4 separate regions of the Homo sapiens genome follow, and regions 1, 2 and 4 are each linked to region 3. Evidence: fine-mapped expression QTL. A gene starts in region 3. Each other region holds a variant in brackets. All regions are shown on one strand. Distances are between the middles of the regions. Region 1 overlaps USP40 (ubiquitin specific peptidase 40). Region 2 overlaps USP40 (ubiquitin specific peptidase 40). Region 3 holds the start of USP40 (ubiquitin specific peptidase 40). Region 4 overlaps DGKD (diacylglycerol kinase delta).

Evidence for each region. PIP is the estimated chance that this variant, and not a neighbour inherited with it, causes the effect.
Region 1: its variant is the best candidate, but not a certain one, in a credible set for the expression of USP40 in whole blood (TOPMed, PIP 0.51).
Region 2: its variant is the best candidate, but not a certain one, in a credible set for the expression of USP40 in lymphoblastoid cells (GEUVADIS, PIP 0.75).
Region 4: its variant is the best candidate, but not a certain one, in a credible set for the expression of USP40 in cerebellar hemisphere (GTEx, PIP 0.89).

Annotation. Positions count from the first base shown.
Region 1 is chr2:233,471,928-233,477,360 of GRCh38, reverse strand. It overlaps USP40 (ubiquitin specific peptidase 40), which reads left to right. Exons shown (of 32, transcript NM_001365479.2): 32 at 1-1,835. It overlaps DGKD (diacylglycerol kinase delta), which reads right to left. Exons shown (of 30, transcript NM_152879.3): 30 at 5,263-5,433. Among named protein-coding and RNA genes, the nearest start is that of USP40, 92 kb to the left of the region's middle. RefSeq lists an enhancer at 2,905-3,504. The variant AAACG/G (reference allele first, on the strand shown) is at 2,652.
Region 2 is chr2:233,534,685-233,540,117 of GRCh38, reverse strand. The region is part of intron 10 of USP40 (ubiquitin specific peptidase 40); the gene reads left to right. Among named protein-coding and RNA genes, the nearest start is that of USP40, 29 kb to the left of the region's middle. The variant T/A (reference allele first, on the strand shown) is at 2,170.
Region 3 is chr2:233,564,461-233,569,893 of GRCh38, reverse strand. It overlaps USP40 (ubiquitin specific peptidase 40), which reads left to right and starts at 3,112. Exons shown (of 32, transcript NM_001365479.2): 1 at 3,112-3,210; 2 at 4,321-4,538. The coding sequence starts at 4,340.
Region 4 is chr2:233,388,720-233,394,152 of GRCh38, reverse strand. It overlaps DGKD (diacylglycerol kinase delta), which reads right to left. Exons shown (of 30, transcript NM_152879.3): 3 at 3,670-3,750. Among named protein-coding and RNA genes, the nearest start is that of DGKD, 37 kb to the right of the region's middle. The variant T/C (reference allele first, on the strand shown) is at 2,547.

The sequences.
Region 1 (5,433 bases), 93 kb after region 3:
ACTCTCCGGCTGATGCCACAAACGTGGGTTTCCTGGGCATGGGGACTGGCTGCCTGGCGCCTCCAATCCCAAATCCTCTGCTTCCTTTGAGCACAGGGACGGCTCCTCTGAGGCCTGGCCAGTGCATGTAGTCACTTAGCTCTGCAACACGTGGCAGCCACGGGGGCTGGTGCAGCTCTGGATGTCGCCCACCCAGCTGCCAGTAGGTGCTGGGCTCTCTCACACAGCACCCGGCCCCAGCTGCCTTTTTTTTTCTTTTAACCAGAAAATGCACAACGTGTGCGTGAACCGCAGGTATGGAGGCAGCGGCATGCCGTTGCTCCGCTGTGGGAGGTGTGTGGGGTCAGGCCAGCCACTTTCCTCCGTGTTCAGATGACTCTCGTTCGCCCTGACCGGCTTCTCACAGTGTCTCAGGCCACTGCGCCACCGCGCTGGTGCTGAGCAGAAGCGGGCAGAAGTGGGGTCTGCTTTCAGGACTTCATTTCCCCCACTCGTTCCGGCCCCGCATGCTCCACGTCTGCCCTTTGGTCTGAGTTAAAACTGCGATGCTGAAAAGTGCGAGCTCTTTCCACGAGGAGGAGCCACACAGGGTGGCCTCCGAGGGTGAGTCGCTCTGCTAAGCAAGGGCAGCCGCTGCACGTCAGCCCGCAGGCCAAGGGTCCAGCTTATCCTGGGTGCTCTGTGATCAGAAGGTCCTTGGATCCCGAGGACTGCAGCTGCTGCCGTCCACAGCGCCTCAGCCTCTCTTCCTGTGTGGAAGCGGGGCAGGCAGGGCTGTGGCAGACAGGCCTGGCATAGCCCAGGTTCCAGGTGTCCTGGGCAGCCTGACCGGTTTCCTGAGTAGCCTCAATGAAAACACCTGAGAAAAAGAAAATGTAAACTAAGGAAGGGTTTTCCCACTTAATCCAACCCAGATTTCTATTCAACTTAAAGGATTTAATTGGCATTTGTGAGAAATAATAGTACCTGTGTCACTGAGTTGATTGATTTGGGACATAGACGGTTGACTTTCCCAGACAGCAGCTTAGCGGAAAGCAGCATCCCGAAGACGGTGTCGCATGTCCTGAGCCTGCTTGTCACCTGGGCCTCACGGTTTCTCGTCAGCCCCGTCACTGATGGGAAGCAGCACTGAAGTGTGAGGGCAGAAAGGACACCGCTGGAGTCAGGCGCTCCCCTGCCTGTGACCCTTTTCCAACAAGCTGATGCTGAGCCAGCGGCCTGCTTTGTCCCTCATACTCCTCCCAACAGTCCAAACCCCTACCAGACAGAAGCCACGTCGCTTCTGCACACGTGTCTGAGAGCGTCTGCCATAGACGTCTGTGCGTTTCCGTGAAGCACTGCGCCCTAAGGACCCAACTCTGACTAGCAGCTGCCTCCCACTCCCAAACACTAACCCCGCTCAGGAGACTCGCACTGGGTGTAGACTGCGTCTTTGCAGAGGGAGATGATAGAGGCTTCTGATGACGCCAGAGCTGTAAGTGTCGTGACGAGCTGGGCGCCCAGCCCTTCTTAAGCTGTTCTGTTTCTGTGGCTTTAACTGACATATTTCTGTAGCATCTGCCTTCATCTCATCTCAGCGTAATGAAATATTAATGAAATCGCTGAAAAGCTTTGCCTTCGAGAGGCCAGAAGCCTCGCGGAATGTCTGCAAGTCCAAAGACGCGTGTGGGTTGTGCCCTGAAGTGCCGTCCAGCAGGCGCGTGCGGCCGGGCCGGCCTGTGCGTGTGGCCTTTGCCTTCTTCCCTTTCTTCCTGTTTTCTGTTTTTTTAATTTGGGGATTGAGAAAGCTGTACGATTTTGTTAAAGAAAAAAATAAACCATTTTTTAAAGTTGTAGCCCTTAGCTGCTTTTGGTTGCCGGCTACTTCGTGCCCAGCTTGCTTAAGAGAGGAACTTTTGGCCGGGCGCGGTGGCTCACGCCTGTAATCCCAGCACTTTGGGAGGCCAAGGCGGGTGGATCATTTGAGGTCAGGAGTGTAAAACCAGCCTGGCTGACATGGTGAAACCCTGTCTCTCCTAAAAGTACAAAAAATTATCTGGGCATGGTGGCGGGCGCCTGTAGTCCCAGCCACTCGGGAGGCTGAGGCAGGAGAATCGTCTGAACCCAGGAAGCAGAGGTTGCAGTGCGCCAAGATCGTGCCACTGCACTCCAGCCTGGGTGACAGAGCGAGACTCCGTCTCAAAAAAAATACATAAATAAAATAAGGAACGTTTGTGGCCCTTTTTCCCAAGCCTGCTTCAGATGCTAAATAAACAGTTTATATTTAGAAATACTGCAGCAGTGCTGCTTTAGAAATAACAAGTTTGCTTTGGTTTTAAAAAGTTCAGACTCATGGGAAAAATGCACTGGAAGAAACTGGATGTAATCAATCTGGTTTTATTTTCCTTCTATGGAAATACGTAATGGTGGTGTCGTCACAGAAAACATACTTATTCAACAGTGACTTTTTCTAGCCAAAAAAGGGAGGGGCAAGAATTCCCTTGCAAATCATTTTGGCGCCATCGATGTGAGTTTAACCTGCAGAACAGACTTAACAGTGAGGGACCAACTTACAACAGCCCCTTCACCCTACAGGTCCATCATTCTGTTCTGTTCTGGATAACGCACCCACCCAAAGCATGGCCATACCAGGGTTCAATAAAATCCATAAC[AAACG/G]CATTCTGGGTGAAGCGGTGACCTCAGTATCCAAGTAAAGAGAGACTGCTTCCAGCTCCCTCTGGCCGCTGCCCTCCCCCACTCCCACCACACACGCCCACGTGCTGCCATGCGTCCAGGTCCCTGTGGCAATGGCTGCAGAGTGTGGCAGACAGGGCCCTTCATCTGCAGGTCCTTGCCCCGACTTGGGGTGGCAGGAGCAGACACGGCAATCTCCCGGCTCAGGAAACAAGAGACCACCAATGAGCTCACACCAGGCTGGGGCGGGGCCAGACGAGTGCTCAGGGGACAGTGGTGCCTCTGCCACGCCCCAGTGTGCTGCTCTGAGGTGGTTCTGTCTCCGCAGGCACCTCCCCAGGTGCCGAGACGCCACCAGCAGCTCCATCACACGAGGCAGCCACCAAGTGCCTCTTTCTACAAACCAGTGAAAGCCCTGGGCCCTAAGTGGGTGATGTCCGTGGGCTCCATGGAATGACAGTCGGGGGAGAGGGGAAGGTGCATTGCCCAGAGCTTCCAGGTGCCCATGTCCTTCACACGCATGTGCTTCAAAGATGGCAGCACCCTCGTGTTGGTGTGGCTGTTGCACCTCCCTCCCAGCCACACCGCCCCCACCCCAGAGGGGCGACTCCGAGTTGCACCCACTCCTAGCCCAGGTCTAAGAGCTCTGGGTGGGGTCCAGTAACCTACAGCCAAGGAACGCGCGTGAGCCCACCTGGAGCCAGGGCACAAAGGGGTGGGGGGACCACAGCAAAACTCTTCTGGCAAACAACAGAGGCCACAAATCCAGGGTTCAGTTAACATTACTGGACCAAGCACCCAGTTTGTTTTTCTAAGTGGTTGGGGAATTCTGAAGAGGATCAGTTTAAAAACAGTATAGACCCTGCTGCATTTTCTCCACTCAACTCTACTGTCCCGTCTCGCGATCATGCTACACTTGCAGCCCCGTCCACTCTAGATCGCTGCCCGGCCTCCCCACGCTGTCAGATGCTGTCTCTGTGAGAAGCCCCCTCCTCACTGCTTTCCCACACAATGGAGCCATGCCCCGTGTGAGATGAGCCACGCGGGCACAGGAGTGAGGCTGGCAAAGCGCACACCAGCCTCCCCCCAGGTCTGCCCCTGCCCGGGCATCTGGTGCCCCCAGCACGTGAGGCGCCCCGGCTGCTGTGCTGGAAAGCATGCCTGTCACTTGGGCCCAATTTCCTCACCTGTCTTGTGGGCTGGGCTTGCTATGAGGCTTGGGACACGGGAGAGCACGGCTGTCGAAAAGATATGCCCTCTGCCTCCCATGTCAGCCACGCGCTGGCTGTGCCTCATGGGGCAAGTTGTGTCGCCTCTCTGAGCCTGTCCCTCGCCTGTAAAATGCAGATAACCCACCATGTAAGGCTGTGAGGGGAATTAGAGGAGTTCGTACATTCAAGGTACTTAGACCAACACCTGGCACAAATTATAAAGTGTCAGCCGTCAGCATCCCGATCACCGTAATAGCTCGTACCCTTCGCACTGATTGGTTTAGTCATGAGTGCGTGAGGCAGTTCTAGCCAAGACATTAGAGGAGGTCGGCTGAAGCCAGAGCTTCGGAAAGGGCTCCCTTTATCTTAAAAAGAGACACACATAGGATCGCTTAACGCCAGGAGTTCAAAACCAGCCTAGGAAGCAAGCGAGACCCAGTCTCTACAAAAAATTTTACAAACTAGCTGGGTATGTTGTCATGCACCTGTACTCTCCGCTACAAGGGAGGCTGAGGTGGGAGGATCACTTGAGTCCAGGATTTGGAGGCTGCAGTGATCTACGATTATGCCACAGTACTCCAGACCAGAAGACAGAGCAAGACCTCATCTTCAACAACAACAACAAAAAGAGCAGGTGACACATAAAAGAGGCAGCCATTTGTCCCCAAACACCTTACACTGGTGTGATGCCTGGAGCTGTGGTGGCCATCTTGCAACCATGAGGCCTGAAGTCCTGAATGGCCAGAGAGGAGAATATACACCAGAAAAAAAAAAACGGGGGGGTTTGTTACCATGGAAGGAGTGAGGAAGAGCTGCTAGGGAGGCAGCCAACACTCCCGGAGCACATGCAGCCCTTCTGTACCCGACCAGCCTGATGGTGTCTTCCATGAATGCAGTCCCCATCCCTCACTCCAGGAAACTGGGGAAGACAATTCAAGTGGCCTTGATCGTAGACAGTTCCCTTGGAAATAAAAGTACCAAGACAAAGCAGAGAAGTCGGAGAGCTTCAGGTTTGCAGTTTTATAGAAAAGATTTAAGAGGGTTAAAATATTCGTTAAAATGGCCCTCATTCTCCCGGGCCAAGGCTGTGTGGTCACACCTGAGAGCCTCAGCACTGCCCAGTACCCTCTCTCTCCTTGCGGAATTTTTAGTCCAACTGATCACAGAACCCACACCCTAAAAAATACAACAGCATTCTAATGGCATTCTAACGGCATTCTGATGGCATGCTAATGGCATTCTGTTTTGCTTTTTAGCCACCAACAACTCAACCTATTTTCAGAGCAGGTGAAAAACAATTCTGAATCCAGTTTGGAAAGATTCCGGCAACCAACACTTTATGTCAAAGCACAAGGAATGATGACAAAGACTCTGGCGATGGAAGATCAAAAACAGGCTTGTTTTATTTATACACAGAACAACTTATGTACAGCACTCAGGTATGGACTATGTACATGACAATACAAGAGGCGTTTGTTTCCACGGTGGTCACTATATAAATTAAGATTATAAATACGAGGGGGTAAGCCCCACCTGAGGGCACAGAACC
Region 2 (5,433 bases), 30 kb after region 3:
AGGTCCACTCTGTCGCCCAGGCTGGAGTGCAGCGGCACGACCTCAGCTCACTGCAACCTCCACCTCCCAGGCTCCAGTGATTCTCCTGCCTCAGCCTCCTGAGTAGCTGGGACTACAGGCATGTGACACTGCACCTAGCTAATTTTTGTAGAGACAGGGTTTTGCCATGTCACCCAGGCTGGTCTCAAACTCCTGGACTCAAGTGATCTGCCTGGCCATCAAGTTAATTTTTTCCTTTTCAAGAAACCAGCTTTTGCCTTAGATATAATTTGATGCAATGCTATTGATTTTCTCTATTGCTTTTCTATTTTCTATTTCACTGATATCTGTTCTTATTTTAAAGTATTTTCTTCTACTTCTTGGGACTTAATTTGATCATCTTTTTCTAGCTACTTGGGTTGGTAACTCAGTTTTTTTTTTAAACCTTCTAATACTTTTAAAGCTATAAATTTTCTTCCAAGCACTAGTTATATTCAACAAATTATATTGTTGATTATAGTTATATTGTTGAATATAGTCAGTTATATTCAACAAGCTTTCATTTTCATTCAGTTTGAAATATTTTCTAATTTCTCTTATTTTTTCTTTGGCTCTTGAGTTCTTTGGAGGTGTGTTGGTCAATTTCCAAATATTTAGGGGGTTTCTAGTTATCTTTTTGTTATGTCAGTAAATTGATTTCTAATTAATTTCATTGTACTTTGAGAACATACTCTATATGAGTTCAGTTCTTTTGAATTTCTTAGGACTTGTTTTACGGTTCAGAGTGTTGTCTATCCTGCTCAATGTTCTGTGTTCACTAAAGAGGTTGTTTTCTGCAGTTATTGGATGTAGCATTTCACAAGTGACAACTAGGTCAAATTGATTGTGTTCTTTGTTTCTTCTCTATTCTTCTTATTTTTTTTTTTGCCTTTTCTATTAATTACTGAGGAATTTTTAAATCTCCCAACTATAATTGTGGATTTGTCTCATTTTTTTAAAAAAAAGTTTTGACAGTTTTTGCTTCATGTATCTTCTGGAAGCTATATTATTAGGTACATACACATTTAGGATTGTTATTGCCTCCTGGCGTGAAATGCTTGCCTTTTTTTTGAGACAGAGTTTTGCTCTGTCACTCAGACTGAAGCGTAGGAGCACAGTCACAGCCCACTGCAGCCTTGACCTCCTGGGCCCACGTGATCCTCCTAGCTCAACCTCCTGAGTAGTTGCGACCACAGGCACACCTGGCCACACCTGGCTATGTGTTCTTTTTTTTATTTTTCATTTTGTAGAGATGGTGTCTCCGTATGTTGCCCAGGCTGGTCTTGAACTTCTGGGCTCAAGAGATCCTCCCACCTTGGCCTCCCAAAGTGCTGGGATTATAGGCATGAGCCACCACACCAGAAATGCTTGTCTTTATCTCTGCTAATATCCCTTGCCTTGAAATCTACCTTGTCTGGTATTAATGTAGCCATATAAGCTTTCTTATACATGTGTGTCTCAGTATGAAGTTGGATCTTGTTTATTTTGGAAAATTATGGTTTTTAAGGAATTTGTTCATTTATCTGAGGTGTCAAATTTGTTGGCATAAAGTTGTTTAAAATCTCACCTTATTATCCGTTTAGTGACTGTAGAATATGAACTTATGATTCCTTTTTCATTTCTGATATTGATAATTTGTCTTTTTTTAGCTTTCTTTTTCATTGCTGGGGTTTATCAAGTTTATTAAACTTTTCAAGAAAACGACTTTGCCTGTGTTGATTTTCTCTGCTCTTCTGTTTTCTGTCAAATGACAGAGAGTTTGACAGTCTCTTCCTTTTTATTAGAATGTTTAGTTATTTACATTAATATAATTGATATGGCTGTGTTTGAATCTCTCATCTTGCTATTTGTTTTCTATTTCTCCTCTATTCTTTATTTTCTTTTTCCTTTCCTGCCTTCTTTTGGATTAATAAATTTTTAGTGTCCCATTTTTAGCTCTTTTGTTGGCTTTTTAATCTATTTAATTTCATCTAGCGATTACACTATATATAAATTAACATGATAAATTACAAATTAATAGTATACCACTTTATGTATACTGTAAGATGCTTACAATAGTATAATTTCATTTTCCCATTCCCATTTTTCCTACTATTGCCTTCTTATATTTTACCATTACATGTAATGTAAATTACACTATATGTTACTACT[T/A]CTGCTTAAACACTTTAGTGACTTTTAAAGAAATTAAGGAAAGAATAGTGTTTCGTATTTATCTTTTCTGGAGTTTACTGCTCGTTATTTATCCAGGTTTGCATTTAATATCATTTCCCTTCAACCTAGAGAGTTTCCTTTAGCATTTCTTGAAGTTCAGAATTGCAGGTGAAAAATGCTTTCAGATTTTGTCTGAAAATATTTATTTTACCTCCATTTTTTAGTGATATTTTTGATAGATACAGAATTATAAGTTAATCATTTTTGTGTTTTTCTCAGTGTTTTAAAGAGGCCCATTGTGTTCTGGCTTCCAGTATGTTGGATGAGAAGCCAACTGTCATTTTTTATTTCATTCTCTTGAATGTAATGTTTCTTTTTCTTGGTCTACTTTTAAGATTTTCTTTTTATCTTTGGTTTTCAGCAGTTTGACAATAATGTATTTAGGTATTGTGTTCCTTGTGTTTATTTACATTCTATTGCTAAGTATTTTTAATATCTGTGGTCCAAAGTCTTTTTTAAAATTTTGGAAAAATTTTGGCCATTATTTCTTCAATTTCTTTTTCTGCCTCATCTCTCTTTCTTTTTCTGGGAGTCTAACTATATCCTTCCATATCTATGGGGGATTGGTTCTAGAATCCCCAGATGACACCCACATCTGCAGATGCTCAAGTCTCTTTCATGAAATGGCATAGTATTTGCATATGGCCTAGTCACATCCTCCTCTATTCTTTAAACTATCACTAGATTACGTATAATACCTAACATAGCCTGGACGTGGTGGCTCACACCTGTAATCCCAGCAAAAGGGAGGTCTAGGCAAGAGGATTGCTTGAGCCCAGGAGTTTAAGACCAGTCCTGGCAACATAGCAAGACCCCATCTGTACAAAAAATTTAAAAATTAGCTGGATGCGGTGGTGCGCACATGTAATCCCAGCTATTTGGGAAGCTGGGGTGGAGGATTGCTTAAGCCCAAGAGTCTGAGGCTGCAGTGAGCTATGATCATGCACTGCACTGCAGACTGGGCAACAGGATGAGACCCTGTCTCCAAAAGAAAAAAAAGGAAACAAAAAAACCTAATACAATATAAATGCTATGTAAATAGTTGTACTGTATTTTTAAGTTTTTATTATTTTTCACTATTATACTGTTGTTTATTTATTTTAATGTTTTTGATTCATGGTTGGTTGAATCTGTGGATTTGGAAACTGCAGATACTGAGGACCAACTGTATGTATTCGACCATTTGATATGTCCTCTCAGGTCTTGGATGTTCTGGGGGCTTTTGTTTTGTTTTGTTTGAGACAGGATCTCACTCTGTTGCCCAGGCTGAAGTGAAGTGGCACAATCTCAGCTCACTGCAATCTCTGCCTCCCAGGCTCAAGCAGTCCTCCAGCCTCAGCCTCCCGAGTAGCTGAGATTACTGGCATGTTTCACCATACCCAGCTAATTCTTTGTATTTTTTTGTAGAGATGAGGGTTTTGCCATGTTGGCCAGACTGGTGTTTTGTTCTTTAATTTTTTTCTTTTCCTACTTCAATTTGGACAATTTCCAGAGATCTGTCCTCAGCTTTGCTAATTTTTTCTTCCACTGAGCCACTCTTCTGTTAAGACCAACAAATGAGCTATACGTTTCAGATATTATACTTTTTAGTTGTAGTCTTTCCACTTAGCTCTTATTTAAAGTGTACATTTCTTTGCTGAAATTCCCCTTCTCTTTACCCATTCTATTCATCTTTTCCTTTAAATTCTTTAACATATTTATAATAGCTGTTTGCTATTATAGTAGCTAGATTAATTCTGAATTTGATTCTGTTGACTCTTTTATTCTCTTTTGAATTGACCATTCCATCTGTTGATTATGAATAACATTGTCCTGTTTCTTTGCATGTCATATAATCTTTTCAATATAAATTTTTATTTTTTAATTACAAATTGATAAATTTTAGTTGTATATATTTATAAGGGTACAGATTGATGTTTTAATTTGCAAATACAATACAGAAAAATCTAATGAACATATCCATCATCTCAAATACTTATTTTTTGTGGTGAAGTTTATTCTCAGCAATTTTGAAATGTACAGTATGTTATTATTTTCTGTATTTACCATACTGTGCAATAGATTTTTTAAGAAAAACAACTTATTCCTACCATTGAATTGAGGCTTTGTATCCTTTGACCATCATCTCCCCATGTCTTGCCCCCCTGCTCCATATAATCTCATATTGTGGATGATGTGTTGTGGAGAGTCTAGATTATGTTATTTTTCTCTGAAGAGCTTTGCATTGCATTCTAACAAGCCCTCAAATTACCTTTGAGTCTTTTAGATTCTGTGGAAGTTAAATTTTGGGCTTTAGGGTGGGTCTGTTACAATTTTGGCTTTAGTTCCAGGGAATAGCTTAGCCCTGGGTCATGGTCCTTCCTCTTACAGTAGGGCTCAGCTAACTATGGCCTGTGGGCAAAATGTGGCCTGCTGCCTGTTCTTATAGTCTTGAGCTAAGAACATGCCTTACATTTTTAAATGGTTACTTTTTAAAAGGTGAAGTGAGTACTAAGTAATGTTCTCAGTTTTGCTTCTAAAATATTTACCATCTGGCTCTTTAAGAAAAAGTTTGCTATCTCTTTCTAATTTGGTAGGACTTGAACTCCTTGTTCTTTCTTCTTGGCATCAGGCAGCCCTGCTCAGATATTGAACCTCCTAACTGATACTCTCTGCTGGGCTCTTTGAGCTGTCCATTCTACCATTTAGGAGTTAGCCAAGGATTTAGGGGGATTTGTTACAGAATTGGGGCTCCTTCGTGGGATCTCGCCTCTCTGGTATTCTCAGATTCTGTCCCCTCATCCCAGTAAGACTCTTGCCTTTTCTTGAAATCTGTTCCATCATGCACTGCTACAAACTGGGTAGTAGGTAGGTGAGTGCAGAACTCACCTGGTTTGCTTCCCTTCTTTGAAGTATTATATCTTCACTTTATGCCTACTTTGGGTTCCTTTCCCAACAGTTGTTTTCCTTTTTTGCCTAGAGTTTATCATTTTTATTAGGAAGATTAGTCTAAGAAAATTTCTTTGTCATTAATGGGACTAGACTGCACTGATGTTTGAGGCTTAAAAGAGTTAATTCTCAACTATCAAACAAAGAAAAACGTGGCTATATAGAAAGTTCATTACTTAAAAACCCAAAGAACAAAAAATGAAAAGAAAGTTCATTACTCAAAGCTTTCAAGTTGTTGATACTTTTTTGTACCTTAAACAAACTAGCTGCAAGGCT
Region 3 (5,433 bases):
CAGTGCAAGACTCTGTCTCAAAAAAATAAAATAAAAATAAATAAATAAATAAAAATGCTTGCATACAGTACTAATCCTTCTTCTACTATTTGCTTTAGTTTCAATGCCCGTATCATAGAAGGGTCCAAGTTGTAAAAGAAGTCAAAAGCAGTCTTAAATAATCAGAACCCTTCTGCAAGATTGTCTAATGTCAATTCATTTTCTGACAGTGCTTCTTCTATATCTTCTTCCTCATTCTCTGGTACTGATTCAAAAGCACTCATCTCCATCAAGTCATCTTCTGTTAATTCCTCAGATGTGGTATCTATTAACTCTTGAATTTCCCCAAGATCTAGATCTTCAAACACTTTATGCCTCTTTTTTTTTTTTTTGGTGCCATATCCACAATCTCTTCCATGACTTCCTTGATAGGCTGTTGTAAATCCTGTGAACTCACACACAACATCTGGAATCTGGACGCAGTTTTCTTCAGCACTAATGTATTGTTTGGGGCTTGATGGCTTTCACAGCTTTTTCTGTAACAACATGGGCTTCTTCAATGGTGTAATCCTTCTGGACTTTCACGATATTCTCCCTGTTGAGATTCTCTTCCATAGTGTTGACACCCCTTTCCATAGAAAACCGTACGTAATGAGCCTTAAAGTTCCTTATGACCCCTTGATCTAAGGGCTGAATTAGACATGTTGTGTTTAGGGGCAAGGAGGCCACTTTGGTGCTCTCATTGCAGAATCTATGGGGTTCTGGGTGGCCAGGGACATTGTCCAATATCAAAAGCAATTTAAAAGGAAGTCCCTTACTGGCAAGGTACTTCCTGACTTCAGGGACAGAGCATTGGTTTTCATGGAACCAAACCAGAAAAAGTGTTTTCGTTGTACAGGGCTTTTTATCATAAAACAAAAAGACTTGCAGCTGGTGTTTATCTTTTCCCTTAAAGGCTCAGGGATTAGCAGCTTTATAGATGGCACATTTGAAAGCACTTTGGTAAATAGGTGTGTAGTGAGAAATACAGTATGAAAAGAATGTTGGGACCATCAGCGAACTAAGAATCAAAATAAAGAATTTCCACAGTGGATGTTGAGAAATCGTGGAAGCTTCTTTAGCAGAGAGGTTTGAGCTCAAAGTGCACCTTAGATGGATAGTGCATCTTATAGTGACGTGCAGGAAGGGGTGTGTAAAACGGGAGTCCACTGAAAAGGCTATCATCCTAATGCAGGTGAGATTTCATGGGGATCTGATAGGAGGAGAGGAAGCTATGGAATGAAAGGATTGTCCAGACAATACTTTGACATGCCATTAGTTTGATTCACAGACGAAAGACAAAGATATAAGATTATATAAATATAATCTTATATCTTTATAAATGTGACCACTCATTCATTCATATTTATAAGATTATATAACTATAATCTTATATAAGGTTATATAACTATAATCTTATATAAGGTTATATAACTATAATCTTATATAAGGTTATATAACTATAATCTTATATAAGGTTATATAACTATAATCTTATATAAGGTTATATAACTATAATCTTATATAAGGTTATATAACTATAATCTTATATAAGGTTATATAACTATAATCTTATATAAGGTTATATAACTATAATCTTATATAAGGTTATATAACTATAATCTTATATAAGGTTATATAACTATAATCTTATATAAGGTTATATAACTATAATCTTATATAAGGTTATATAACTATAATCTTATATAAGGTTATATAACTATAATCTTATATAAGGTTATATAACTATAATCTTATATAAGGTTATATAACTATAATCTTATATAAGGTTATATAACTATAATCTTATATAAGGTTATATAACTATAATCTTATATAAGGTTATATAACTATAATCTTATATAAGGTTATATAACTATAATCTTATATAAGGTTATATAACTATAATCTTATATAAGGTTATATAACTATAATCTTATATAAGGTTATATAACTATAATCTTATATAAGGTTATATAACTATAATCTTATATAAGGTTATATAACTATAATCTTATATAAGGTTATATAACTATAATCTTATATAAGGTTATATAACTATAATCTTATATAAGGTTATATAACTAATCTTATATAAGGTTATATAACTATAATCTTATATAAGGTTATATAACTATAATCTTATATAAGGTTATATAACTATAATCTTATATAAGGTTATATAGCTATAATCTTATATAAGGTTATATAGCTATAATCTTATATAAGGTTATATAGCTATAATCTTATATAAGGTTATATAGCTATAATCTTATATAAGGTTATATAGCTATAATCTTATATAAGGTTATATAGCTATAATCTTATATAAGGTTATATAGCTATAATCTTATATAAGGTTATATAGCTATAATCTTATATAAGGTTATATAGCTATAATCTTATATAAGGTTATATAGCTATAATCTTATATAAGGTTATATAGCTATAATCTTATATAAGGTTATATAGCTATAATCTTATATAAGGTTATATAGCTATAATCTTATATAAGGTTATATAGCTATAATCTTATATAAGGTTATATAGCTATAATATAGCTATACTCTTATATAAGATCATATAGCTATACTCTTATATAAGATCATATAGCTATACTCTTATATAAGATCATATAGCTATAATCTTATATAAGATCATATAGCTATAATCTTATATAAGATCATATAGCTATAATCTTATATAAGATCATATAGCTATAATCTTATATAAGATCATATAGCTATAATCTTATATAAGATCATATAGCTATAATCTTATATAAGGATCATATAGCTATAATCTTATATAAGATCATATAGCTATAATCTTATATAAGATCATATAGCTATAATCTTATATAAGATCATATAGCTATAATCTTATAAATGTGAACGAATGAGTGGTCCGCTGGCCGAGTGGACCCGCGAACTCACCAGCGGACTTGTAAGCGAGCTCACCTTGCCCGCTCCCGCTCCCGCTCCAGTTCCCAAACTCTTGGAGCAGAAGAGTTACATTTCCCATAAGGCCCCGTGCGAGGGGCCGGCGCTCCAGCGGGGCATCCTGGGAAGCATAGTCCACGATCCATAAATCACTTTCTGGAGACCCGCCCTCGCCAACATGGCGGCGCCCAGTTGGGGCGGGTTCGTTCGCTTCGCGTTTTGGCCAGGGCGGGGGTCTGGGCTTTAGGCAGTAAGTGCGGCTGGCGCCCGGGGATCCTGGGAGGGACGTGGGAAGCGTAGGGACAGTGTTGGTGGCCCAGTCTGAGGAGGGCGAGGCGAGAGGCTGCCCAGGCCTGCCTGAGGACGCGGCGCTCTCCTGGAGTCGGGGCAGTGGTTTCGGGCCACGGGGACCTCTGCCTTTTTGCGCCCCTGGGCCTGTGGTGGCTTGGAGGGCCTCGGCCGGCCGTAGGAGTTGGGAATTCAGGAATGCAGACAACGAGCTCGAGGCTAGACTCTCGAGTTGTGTTTTTTTAGTTTTCTTCTGAGGAAAAGAAAAATAATTGCATTTCAGCGCTTCCTGTCATTTGGTACCTATGCTAGGCGCTTTACGTTTCTCATCTCCAAGTGACCCTCCGCCACACTCGATGTGAAACCTTGGGGAAGTCACCTAGGCCCCCAGGGCTAACGATGGGATTAGTGGATACATACTGGAAGGCCTTTAGGCTTGATAATTTTAGTGGCAGTCTTCCCCGCCCTCCGCTCCCCTTCCCCCCTCCCTCCCCAGTGAACTGACTTCCGGCCCAACAGCTTCGGGACTGTACTAAAGTGCTCTAAAAAAAGTTAACTTGATCTGTTTAATTTAAATGTCATAATCTGGTATATAGTACTGAAGGGTGTGACAAGCAGAGATTTTAGAGAGTTGATTCTCAGAATTTAGGGTTGGCTTTGCCGTCCCAGCAGTGGATTAGTTGTGGCAACAGGTTTTCTTTTTTAAAAAAATTAGTGATGTGAACGTGCCTTTTTAAAAACAGCTGTTACTTATTGTGGGCCAAACCCTGTACACTAACTGCCCTTCTTTCGTTATGTCATTGGATAGTTTAAATGACCCGAAGAGACAGATGGTATCCTATTTTACACATAAGAAAACAGATTAACATATCCAGGGTCACACAGGTAGTTAGGGTCCTGATAGGGATGAAAAAAATCTAGATCTTGCTGCCTCCAAAACCCAACTACTGTACATAGAAACAGTAGTCCTGTGTTCTAAGAAACAACAGAATCGACTCCCAAGTGTAAGGTAGGGGGATTTGGGGAAAATTTATTTTAAAAATAAAAGCATTTATATGTCACTTTTTTTAAGGGTAGTATTTAGTTTCACAATGTTTGGGGACCTGTTTGAAGAGGAGTATTCCACTGTGTCTAATAATCAGTATGGAAAAGGGAAGAAATTAAAGACTAAAGCTTTGGAGCCACCTGCTCCTAGAGAATTCACCAATTTAAGCGGAATCAGAAATCAGGGTGGAACCTGTTACCTCAATTCCCTTCTTCAGACTCTTCATTTCACACCTGAATTCAGAGGTATGCTATGTTACGTACATTTAACTAGCAATATGTACCATCTTCTTTACATGTAATTAATTATGCAAAATCACAAATAGACCAATTATCTTAAAGATATATTCTACAGTATGTGTTTATTGTTGCACATATAAGATATAAATTGGTAATTCCCTCTGCAGAGAAATGTGAAGCTTAATCTTAAATATATCCTGGGTGATGACAATAATGTTTAGTAAAAAAATAAAGCAATATATTTCTTTTTTAATTCCTGTAATTTAAAGTACAACGTAAAGACAATTGTCATAAGTATCAGTCTTCATTATTGTTACACTGTTTGAGTTTTAAGATTTCTCTAGAATAACAAACACTTAAGCCAGAGTTATCCAACCAATTATATCTACCTTTTGGAGTGGGGAAGGGTGTCATATTATTTATATGGGTGCACAGTTGTTCATACGCATTTCTGAAATCTGGAAAGCTCACACCCTCATCTGATCTCACCTGAGCTTGTTTGGCTTCAGAACCAGACCTGGTGTGAGGCTATTTACAGTTTTTAGTTATCTCATGTGGGTGAATGTTCATACATTCATTACAGGAATATTAATCTGCTTGATTAATGGAAGCTGGCCCAGACCCTGCTGGGAATGTAACATTTTATATATATATAAAAAACACTTTTTTCATATTATCTTTATAAACTCTGGAAATTCTGAATTCCAAAGACCCAGAGATTTTAGGTAAGGGATTGTGTGCAAGAAACAGACCCACCACCCAAATTAGCTAAATTTAAAAGGGGGGTTATTGTAAGAATATAGGGGATCTCAGAAATCAACTGCAGGAAGCCAGCCTGACCTTACTGGACCCTTGATTTCTTGCCCCTGTTTCTCTCTATATATTTCTCCCATACCCCATC
Region 4 (5,433 bases), 180 kb after region 3:
AAATGGAGAAGGTGAAAACTGTTAGAAATACATGAACAAAGTGTTAAACGTAACTGGCCTGAAAGAGATTCTAACTCCTCATTAACAGCCTATGGAAGCTCAAGCGATAAAAAACAAGATCATAAGAGGACTTGAACAACATATTTCGTAAGTTACAACAGATAAAAACTAATACACAGCCGGGCAAGGTGGCTCACACCTGTAATCCCAGCATTTTGGGTGGCCAAGGTGGGCACTGAGGTCAGGAGTTCGAGACCAGCCTAGCCAACACGGTGAAACCCTGTCTCCACTAAAAATAAAAAAATTAGCTGGGCATGGTGGCATGTGTCTGTAATCCCAGCTACCCAAGGCTGAGGCAGGAGAATCACTGGAACCCAGGAGGCGGAGGCTGCAGAGAGCCGAGACCACACCACTACACTCCCCCCTGGGCAACGGAGCAAGACTCCATCTAAAAAAAAAAAAAAAAAAACCAATACACATAAATACAGACACTGAATTAGAAAACAGGAAAGTAGGGCCCAGCATGGTGCCTTACACCTGTAATCCCAGCACTTTGGAAGGCTGAGGCAGGAGGATCACTTGAGGTCAGGAGGTCAAGACCAGCCTAGACAACATGGCGAAAACCCATCTCTAACTAAAAATACAAAAATCAGCCAGGCGTGGTGGGACACACCTGTAATCCCAGCTACTCAGGAGGCTGAAGCAGGAGAATCACTTTAACCCAGGAAGAAGAGGTTGCCATGAGCCGAGATCACAGCACTATACTGCAGCCTGGGCAACAGAGCAAGACCCTGTCTCAAAAAAAAAAAAAAAAAAAAGGAAACAGGCCAGGCGTGGTGGCTCACACCTGTAATCCCAGCACTTTGGGAAGCTGAGGCAGGCAGATCACTCAAGGTCAGGAGTTTGAGAACAGCCTGGCCAACATGGCGAAACCCCGTCTCTAACTGAAAATATAAAAACATTAGCTGGGCGTGGTGGCAGGTGCCTGCAATCCCAGCTACTCAGGAGGCTGAGGCAGAAGAATCGCTTGAACACAGGAGGTGGAGGTTGCAGTGAGCCAAGATCACGTCATTGCACTCCAGCCTTCCAGCCTGGGCAACAGAGCAAGATTCCGTCTCAAAAAAATAAAAAAGGAAACAGAAAAGGAGAATTGTTCAATAATCTAAGAACTAGTTCTCTTTAAAAACAAAGAAAACAAAAATGCTAGAGTTTACGAAATCTGACAAGAAAAGCAAACTAAACTAATAAAATTAGAAATGCAAAGGAGATTCAACCAGAGACACAGGTGTTTAAACTACACAACAGTACACGCTACTAACTTTGAAGGTGTGAAATTTGTGGGAAAGTAAATTACAGATGTGGACTCAAAAAGTGAAAAGGTTCAAAAAATGATCAAAATGCAAGAAATAAATATTTTAGGATTTATTTCTATTACAGCCTTATCTCCCTAAAAAGTCTTCTTGACAAATAATTTAAAATAAATTCTCTCGAACTTAAGAAACAACCAATCCCAAAGCTACATAAAATGTTGCAGAAAACATAAACTCATAGAAAGTTACTAAATGAATTTTATGGGGTTGGTTTAACTCTGAAATCAAAACACAGTATGTCCAACTATTATGTATCCATTAAAATTAAAAACAGAAAAAACAATTGTTTAAAACTGCAATAAGGCTACATTCTCACCCAAAACAAATGCATACATACCAGTGGGAAAATTCTAAATTGCAAGATAAAGGAGTAAAATTCAACATTACCAAGAATAATTTTTTTATTAGGAAATATGCAAATAACTGAAACCAAAATGAACATCTAAATTAATGCCCAGGGCCAGGCACAGTGGCTCATGCCTGTAATCCCAGTACTTTGGAAGGTTCAGGCGGGTAGATCACTCCAGGCCAGGAGTTTGAGACCAGCCTGGCCAATATGGTGAAACCCCATCTCTACTAAAATTACGAAGATTATCTGGGCATAACGGTGCACGACTATAATCCCAGCTACTAGGGAGGCTGAGGCATGAGGATCCCTTGAACCTGGGAGACGGAGGTTGCAGTGAGCCGAGATCACACCACCGCACTTCAGCCTGGGTGACAAAGGGAGACAACATCTCAAAAAAATTCATTAATTAATCAACTGATGCTCAGAACACTCCAAAGAAATTCAACACCTACTCCTATTAAAGACTCTAAAAACCACGAATCAAAGAAAAATCTATTTATGTGGTTAAAAATGTCTCTTCCCAGCTGGTAAAAATAAATTAATAGAGAAAACTACAAATACTCCAAGTAAAATAAGAGCAGTTAATCAACACAAAATAAGCAGAGGTTTAGACAGAGAAAGGAAAATCCCATTTGTATTGGCAACATCAACAATGAATCCATCAATAAATAAAATAAAACAAAACTTGAAAGCACCTGAAACTAGCACTAACCCAAAATATCAGATCCTAAACTTGAGGAAAATTACTCACCTTGACTGAATTATAAAAGAATAATTTTTTTAATTAGGGTACACACTTTTTGTCTACATGGGATGGCCTAATAACA[T/C]AAAGAAAAACAGCTTTAAAAGTTCTAGTGCTGTTATTAGAGTCAAACCTTACACAGGCAGGCGCTAAAGTCAGCCCGTAAAGCCTAAATTATAAAATCCTACAAGAAAATGCTACTATAGCCATTAAATAATATCATGAACATTTAGATCAGCTGACATGAGCAACTCTCTACTATAAATTGTCCTGGGGGGGGAAAAAAACACAGGTGTAAACCAAAAGGTTCAGCATGATCTCATGGGTACATGTAGGTAAAGACATAAATATACAGAAATAAAGATAAACACTGTAGAGTAAGCAGCTGGCCACTTCCAAGTGGTGAGATCACATGATTCTGTGCATTTAGAACTTTTGCAGAAAGTCCTACATAACTTTTATAAATTTGGAAGGAAGAAAGTTTAAACATAAAAAAGGAAAAAAAAAAGAAATACACCAAAATATTAACATTCAATGTTTTTTGAGGTGGCTGTTATGGCTGCTTTTTAATTGCTTTAACATACTTGTCTGCATTTTCCAAATTTTCTACATTAATCACAAAAAACAAAACTCTGTACAGAGGTAGTAAGATGTGAACCAGCAAAGCGTGGTGGCTCACACCTGTAATCCCAGGATTTTGGGAGGCCAAGGAGGGTGGATCACCTGAGGTTGGGAGTTCGAGACCACCCTGACCAACACGGAGAAACCCTGTCTCTACTAAAAATACAAAATTAGCCAGGTGTGGTGGCACATGCCTGTAATCCCAGCTACTCGGGAGGCTGAGGCAGGAGAATCGCTTGAACTCGGGAGGCGGAAGTTGCTGTGAGCTGGAGATCACGCCATTGCACTCCAGCCTGGGCAACAAGAGCCAAACTCCGTCTCAAAAAAAACAAAACAGACGTGAACCAAAACACATATAAAAATTTTTCATTTGGTCCCTATTGTCCTTTTGTGCTTATGCATGCCAAATTCTTGGTTATTCTCCAACCACAGTATTACTTTCAGCATTAAATTCAAATTTTACCAGCAATCATTCCAATCAGTAAGAAAAGAATGAAAACGTTTGAACTGCTTGGACACATGTTCAGATCAAAAAGGAAAGCCAACTTCAGTGAAGAATCAAGAAAGGCATGACTGAGGAATCTTACCGTAAAACTGTTGTTGACGTTTTTGGTACTGGATTCAGCTACGCTGGCATCTGTCAGATCCACCTCATCAAATATGATTGACTAGAAAGAGACAAACACAGGGACTAAGGCACATAAAGACAGGTACATCCCTAAGCACTAGCCAGCGCTGCCCACCACACCCCAATGATCCCTAACAAGCACCCACAGAAGCCCCAGTACCTTGAAACTGTAGCATCCAATCAATAAGCCAATCCAAATTAACCCACCCACCTGCTTCTAACCAAAAGCTCGGGCTCACAGGTATAGTGCCATGATTTTTTTAAAAAAATCTACAAACATTGTCATTGCATTAGTGAAGGAAGAAAGAGAGAGAACCAAAGCAAACAACCCAATGCTGGTATTTCTGTATTTACTACTGTCAATACCAGTATTCACTTTTACATGTGAAGTATGTTCTCACACAGTGTTTTAGCTGAGGGAAGGCCGGGGTCTGGACTGAGGATTCCGTGTCCTCCTGGCTTGTTCCTCCAGCGAGCACATGGAGGGGGAAGGTCCTGGCTAAAACAAATTCTTCTGGAGAAGAGAGACAGGTCCAAATGGAAAGGGTCTGGCCGTGAAAGGAAACAAGGGAGTAGAGCAGAAGGATCCTGGTCCTGGAGAGAAAGATGCTCCAGGGCAGGGCTGGGAGTCAGGCCTGGGGACCTCCCCCGTCTCCCTCTCCACTCCCTACAGGGTCCCCCGGCACAGCCCCTGCCTCCTGTTTCCCTTATACCATCCCCTCTATTCTACGATGGCTCTATGAGGAACCCTGGAGAAAATCAAACTAATAACTCAGAAAAGAAACTCAATCTTTTAAGTAACCTTTCCCCTCCCCGCACCACCAGAACTAACTGTAAAAGGTTATTTTGTCGTGTTTTTTTTTTTTTTTAATTGAGGGAAGTGGTCAGAACCCTTTCTAAACAAGCTGCTTTGTTCCATTTCAAATTTTAATGCAGTAACTTTCTAGGGATATGTCTCAAAATGTAAATTATTCAGACTCCAGATTTCTTAAATACCAAAATATTAGTACTGACACCAATCCTGATAAAAAACACAGGTATTCAGAATCCCAGCCAACACACTGGTGTCTGAATGTCTAACACCACATCCGCTTAAACATGGCAGTAATCTGTGACTTTCACTGGCTGCTCCTCCTCCAGCAGCACCCACCTGGTGCTTCTAGCTTTAAATCTACCTACAATAGGGCACACAGAAACAAGGTTAATTGCTAGAAAGCCTAAAAATAAAGAATTTCCCATTTCTGTTCACACATCAAGAAGCTCAGCTCCTTCTACTTTGGCTGGGCACAGTGGCTCATGCCTGTAATCCCAGCACCTTGGGAGGCCAAGGCGGGCAGATTACTTGAGGTCAGGAGTTCAAGACCAGCCTGGGCAATGTGGTGAAACCCCATCTCTAGGCCGGGCACGGTGGCTCATGCCTGTAATCCCAGCACTTTGGGAGGCAGAGGCAGGCAGATCATTTGAGGTCAGGAGTTCGAGACCAGCTTGACCTACATAGTGAAACCCCATCTCTACTCAAATATAAAAATTTTAGCCAGGCGTGGTTGCAGGCACCTGTAATCCCAGCTACTTGGGAGGCTGAGGCAGGAGAATTGCTTGAACCCAGGAGGCGGAGGTTGTAATGAGCCGAGATCTCGCCACTGCACTCCAGCCTGGACGACAAAGCAAGACTCCCTCTCAAAAAAAAAAAAAAAAAAAAAAAGAACTTCAATATACTTAAAGA